Linked DNA regions of Homo sapiens: region 1 is linked to region 2. The links come from fine-mapping of genetic effects on plasma protein levels. A gene starts in region 2. The other region holds a variant in brackets. All regions are shown on one strand. Distances are from middle to middle. Region 1 overlaps BLVRA (biliverdin reductase A). Region 2 holds the start of BLVRA (biliverdin reductase A).

Region 1 (2,909 bases), 32 kb before region 2:
TTCTGGTTATGTGTTAATTTGAACATTCAACCATTCATTTATTCAACTAAGTACTATTTACCAATTACTGTGGAGGAGAAATAAAGACACATTAACAAATAAATTTCCTATCACCACATGGTAGCTATAAAGGCTACAAAACCCACAGCGGCTAGCTTTGCCTGAGGCAGTCTGAAAAGATTTCACTAAGGACCTATGAACTGGGTCTCAAAGTATGAGCAGACATTTTCCAGGTGCAACATGTGAGTATATTTCACTGTGAGCAGCGTATGCAGGGGCTTGGGCATTTGTGGGGCTTTGTTCAATCGGCAAACTTCAGTGTGGCAGGGGAGTGGACTACAGGCCGTGGAGGATAATAACGTTGGAAAAGTAGCTGGGGGCCTGACTGTGAAGGACCTACAATTCTGTGCTCAGCAGTTCAGATTTCATTCTGTGGATACCAGAGTACAAATATTTATAAGCATGGGACTTATGTCAGAATCACTTTTCTTAAGGAAATACACTCTGGTGCCAGAAAAGGTTAAGGAAAGCCAAGGAGAGGTGTTTTTGTCTACTCTAGAGCTAGACTGATAAAGAGGAAGCATCTTACCCGTGGGAAACAGCATGGTGGGAGCAGCTGTAAGAACCTAGAAGGAAGCTAGACTGAGGAAGGCAGCTGGCACTTCCCTGTTAGCTGCCAGGTCCTGAGGGTTAAAGGAACTCAACCGTTATTTTATGACATTGAAAGCACAAAGGAGAAAACGTTGGAAGCTGATCCAAACTGAGAAGGGAGTATGATAATTTGCCAAGGATGCCGGCTCCACATCCTAAACTGTCTGGTGAGAAGAAGGAGGCCACTACTGTTGAAAACTACTCTCGATGGGTTTTTACAGAGAAATAAAACACTTTAATTCTGAATGTTTCTAATGTTTCAAATTACACATACTAAATATTAATTTTACTATTTTTCACTTCCTTATATATTTATAACCAGCAATAAGAATTTCTTAATGTTTTGACACTTCTGTGATTGGTCACAGAGCAATTGTAATTTTCTCACTGGCTCTTCTGACTCCTTTGCAGGGTGTTTTAGCTTGCTTGCTCATTTTTGCAGTACTGCACTGCTGTGTAAGGCAAGGACTGCCTGTGTGGAAAACCCACCTGATGTAGTCCTCATGGCTGGAGCTCTCACTGCAGATATAGGCGACCTCCACCTCTTGGCTGGAAAGAGCATCCTCCAAAGAAATC[T/C]GCTGGACTCCATCAATGCTCCCGAGCTCCCTTCTATTTCAGAGTAACAGAGAAATGGAACTCAATGGTAGACAGAAGAAAGGAGCACCATCCTTCTCCCCTCCTCCCGACAGGTCCTGGTGATCTGCTGCCAGAAATGAAGAAATGAGTTTCTTCTCTCCCACTTCCAGGCTATTTTCCATTGTGGAGTGAGAAAAATAGCCTCAGAGTTCAAGTCAGGGGATCTGGCATTGAGTGCCAACAGTACCATTCACAGCGTGTATGACCTGGGAGAGTCTTGAATTACTTCATCTCCAAAACAAAAGAAACAGCTGGGCGCGGTGGCTCAAGCCTATAATCCCAGCACTTTGGGAGGCCGAGGTGGGTGGATCACTTGAGGTCAGGAGTTCAAGACCAGCCTGGCCAACATGGTGAAAACCTGTATCTACAAAAAATACAAAAGTTAGCCAAATGTGGTGGTGGGCGCCTGTAATCCCAGCTACCTGGGAGGCTGAGGCAGGAGAATCACTTGAATCCGGGAGATGGAGGTTGCAGTGAGCCGAGATTGCACCACAGCACTCCAGCCTGGGTGACAGAGCAAGACTCCTCAAAAATAAAATAACATAAAAATAAAAGGAACAATCTACTTTTATCTCATGAGAAGTGATCTCTATGGTCACTTCCAGTTCCAAGCACTTGGCCAAACATTGTGACTACCAAACCTAATCCAAATCCAATACGTTAACACATTTAGGGTGCAAACTGGCATGCGACTTCGAGCTACTTTATAGCTAAGCTAACGAAGCCCAGTAGTATGTACGCACACATGTTTGTGTGTGTGTGTGTCTGTGTGTGTGTTTGTGTGTGTGTGTGTGTCTTCCTCCCTCTGGCCGACTGAGCTCATTGGAAGGTGAGGAATTCGTTCTCCATGATTTCTCCTATAATGCCTAGCACATAATAGGCAGTGATAGCCTTGACTAACCAGGAGCAGAAGCAGGAGGGGAACCCAAGGCCTTCTGACTCTTCTAGAGCATGGGGGAGCTGCAGTCTTCGAAGAGCCAAAGCCCCAGCAGTCCGTACACCTCCCAGTGCAGCGGCTGGGGCAGGAGAGTAGCCCTCTAAGGGTGGCAGTCATGGGGGAATGTGGGACAGCTAGCAAGCAGAAGGCCCTCAGCCCGCTCAGAGCTCCAGCTGAGCTGCAGCAGGCAGAAAGCATTCAGGAAAATTTAGCTCCCAAAGAGTATTATGCTAGGTTTCTTTAATGGGGCCACCCAAACTAAATTGCTCAATTTCAGCAATACTTATTGTTTGCCTATTATGTACTAGGCGCTGTAGGAGAAATCATGGAGAACAAATTAAAATCATCGCCTTTCAATGAGCTCAGTCAGCTAGAGGAAGACACACACACACACACACACACACACACGTACATACCACTACCACAAGACTACCAGGAGAAATGTGGTGCTTGGAAGTAGGAGATGGAGACTCAGGGTGGGAAAGGAATACACCAGAAAAGCTTCCTGGGGAGGAGGTAGAACTTAGCAGGTAGGTCAGGAAGGGAAGGGTATGTGAAGAGGGAAACAGTGTGAGTACTGGCAGGGCTGTCATGCAGGGGTGTGACCTGGCCATCCTCCCATACAACCTGGGTAGTGTAGGTGTTCCCACTGAGCTGACCCTGGAAGCCAACTGGCAGAGGACTG
Region 2 (2,909 bases):
AAATGACTGGGAGTAATAAGCAGTGTAGATCAAAAACTAAATACAATTATAACAAAGATGAAAATTAATAGATGTGGCCCAAAGTGGCAAATCTTTGACTTTAATCACATGCTAACTGGATAGGCAGGGGGTACAAAGAATAAAAAAGTAAAGATCGGCCGGGCGCGGTGACTCATGCCACGCCTGTTATAATCCCAGCACTTTGGGAGGCCGAGGCGGGTGGATCACCTGAGGTCAGAAGAATTGCTTGAACCCAGCAGGTGGAAGTTGCAGTGAGCCGAGATCGCGCCACTGTACTCCAGCCTGGTGACAGGGCGAGGCTCTGTCTCAAAAAAAAAAAAAAAAAAAAATTACATATGAAATGTGGGAAAACACACTGAGAATTATTCCTAAAAAAGTTGAAGTATAATTAGAGACCCTATTGTAATTTTTAGCTCTCTGGCTACAGAATTTCCCTTCTGATACTTTGTCTAACATTTGACTTGTTTTTCTGGAATGCATCCCGTTAAGGGAAGGATGAGCATATTTATCAATACAATCTTTTAGGAAATAATTAGGAATATACCAATACCTTTATTTCCATAATTTTAATATCTTCTTGGGAATCGTACTATAGAAATTACATTAATGATGGAAAAACTTTCAGCACAGTATTGCTTCCTTTGTAGGTGGTGATGATGACAGCTAACATTTACTGAATCCTTCCCATGCTGAAAACCCTATTGTAAGCTATTTATGTTCGCTAAGTCACTTATTCTTCAGGGCTATCCTACTAAGTAAGCATTATGATTACCCCCACTTTTACAGGTGAGAAAATCGAGGCAACAAGAGGTTGGTTAACGTGCCCAAGATCAGATCGCACAGCGGTATAATAGGATGGAAAACTCCTATCACATAATGAACGTTAAGTGAAAAAAATTAGTATCCAAAACTGTAAGTCTGATGTCTCATTCTTTTTATAATTTAAGTAGTTTATAAATACCCTCATTATTAGCCATATTTCTGAGCACTTCATATGTAGAGTGCACTTTACAGAACACTGTCATGTAACCCTCACACCGTCTACGAAATAAGTGATAGTTTCCAGTTTCCAAAAACGAAAGCGGGGCTAGGAGAGGCCAAGTGCCTCGCGTGGCGCCTCAGGATTCGCCCCAGCGGAGCAGACCCCAGGGCATCCCAGGCGGGTCCCGGCCGAGCTAGCGGCCCTGCGGTGGCTACGCCCGGGCCCAGCCGCTCGCGCTCCTGGAGCCGCCGGACTACGCGGCACGCGGACGCCGAGCCTGCCCTCTTGGGTCTACATAAAAACCGAAACTACGGGCAGTCTTAACCGAAATGGAGACTTAATTTTTTAGACTGTCTTTTGTGTAGTTGAGAAAGCCCCTTGCCGGGACCCGCGCTGCTGGGCCTCCGACCGCGTCCTCACTCCGGGCCCGGGCGGGGCGGGGCGGGGCAGGCGGCGCCCAGGCTGCGTCCCGGCTCTGGCGGCCGCGGGCCCGGGCCTCCTGCGGGCCTGGGGCTTCGAGCTCAGGCCCTAGCGCTCTATGGAAGCCGCGCGCGACCCCCGCTCCCCTGCGCGCGACCCCCGTTCCCCGCGCGCGCCTCACCTGACGCGGGCACCGCTCTCCGTGCAGCCTCCGGGCGCCACCGGCTTTGCGGACCGGGGCGGGATCCCAGCTCCGATTGGCTGCCCGGCTGGGGGGCGGGGGCCCCGAAGCGGGGTGGCGGAGACCGGGAGGGGACCGGAGGCGGTGGGGAAGGGAGTGGACGGAAGGGGAGGGAGGGTCCCGGCCTCGTGCGGTCGCGCGTGAGATCCTGGCCTCTGTGCCCTGGGTCTGGCGCCTGGGGCCGTAAGAACCGTCCGTGCGCCTGCCCTGTTCTCTGCACCCAGCTTGGTGGCGAGGGGTGGGTGGTGGGTGCCGGCCGACCGGAGGGCGTATGGAAGTGGCTGGGCCCCCTCACGGTGTGCCTGGCCCCCTCACGGTGTGCCTGGCCCCGGCGTGGGGGGGGCAGGCCCGGGGGGTGTCGCATCTCTCTTATCCGCCCCCCACTCACCACGTAGAACCCACTGGATCCCATTGGTATTTAGTGGCCCCGGGCCGACTGAACTGGCGCCGAGGCTTACCTGAGTCCTTCCTGTAAATGTGAGGAGCGGAGGGAATATTCCAGGAGGCCGGTGTCTGCGATGTCCTGCTCTTGGGTAGCTAGGAAGTAGTGAACGTGGTCTAGGGAACTGCCTGGGCTCTTATCCACCTGGGAATGGGTTTGTTGGGGATCCTGATGTGGGAGAAGCCAGGGAGCTTCTAGCCTAGTGGGGCTAGGGGAGAAAACAGGGAGAGGGGTGGATTAGGCTGAAGGAAAGAGATCTCTGATCTTAAAGGCAGCGTTCTGACGGGTAAGGTTGACTGGCATTTTCCCCAACAAAGAGTTCTAGTACCGTATTCCATGACCTGACAAGCCTGTTTAAGTGAGGTTTTGTTGAGTGCAAAGAGAGAAGGCTTGGCTTTGAATTTTTATCTCCAGGCGGGACCTGCCTCCTGAACTCCATACTCCTCTATCCAGCTGCCTCCTTAATACCTCCTCTTGGATCTCTAAAATACATTTCAATCTCAACACATCCAAATCTGTGCCCCTGATCTCTTCCCCATAGCATCACCATCTCGATGGCAACTCCATCTTCCAGTTGTCAAGGCCAGAAACCTTGCTGTTTCAGAAACCTTTCTCTCACATCCCACCTCCAGGGCCCAAAAATTCTGTTGGTTGGATCTCCCTAGCATACCCAGAGCCTGACCACTTCTTACCTCTGCCTCCATCATCTGCTACCTGGGTCATGACAGTGGTCTCTTCCCTGATATCCCTGCAGCCTGTCCCCATAAAGCAGCCAGAGTGACCTTAAAAAAAGAAAGCCAGAT

Evidence for each region. A credible set is the group of variants that fine-mapping cannot tell apart. PIP is the chance, under the fine-mapping model, that this variant and not a neighbour inherited with it causes the effect. Protein levels are from the aptamer-based SomaScan assay of Sun 2018.
Region 1: its variant is the best candidate, but not a certain one, in a credible set for the plasma level of the BLVRA protein (Sun 2018, PIP 0.59). The variant lies in the coding sequence of BLVRA. If it changes the protein, the assay may bind it differently, which can mimic a change of level.

What each region holds. Positions count from the first base shown.
Region 1 is chr7:43,789,600-43,792,508 of GRCh38, reverse strand. It overlaps BLVRA (biliverdin reductase A), which reads right to left. Exons shown (of 8, transcript NM_000712.4): 4 at 1,141-1,260. Among named protein-coding and RNA genes, the nearest start is that of BLVRA, 32 kb to the right of the region's middle. The variant T/C (reference allele first, on the strand shown) is at 1,228.
Region 2 is chr7:43,757,430-43,760,338 of GRCh38, reverse strand. It overlaps BLVRA (biliverdin reductase A), which reads right to left and starts at 1,659. Exons shown (of 8, transcript NM_000712.4): 1 at 1,605-1,659. It also overlaps the pseudogene LOC107986727. RefSeq lists silencers at 1,235-1,554, 1,565-1,954.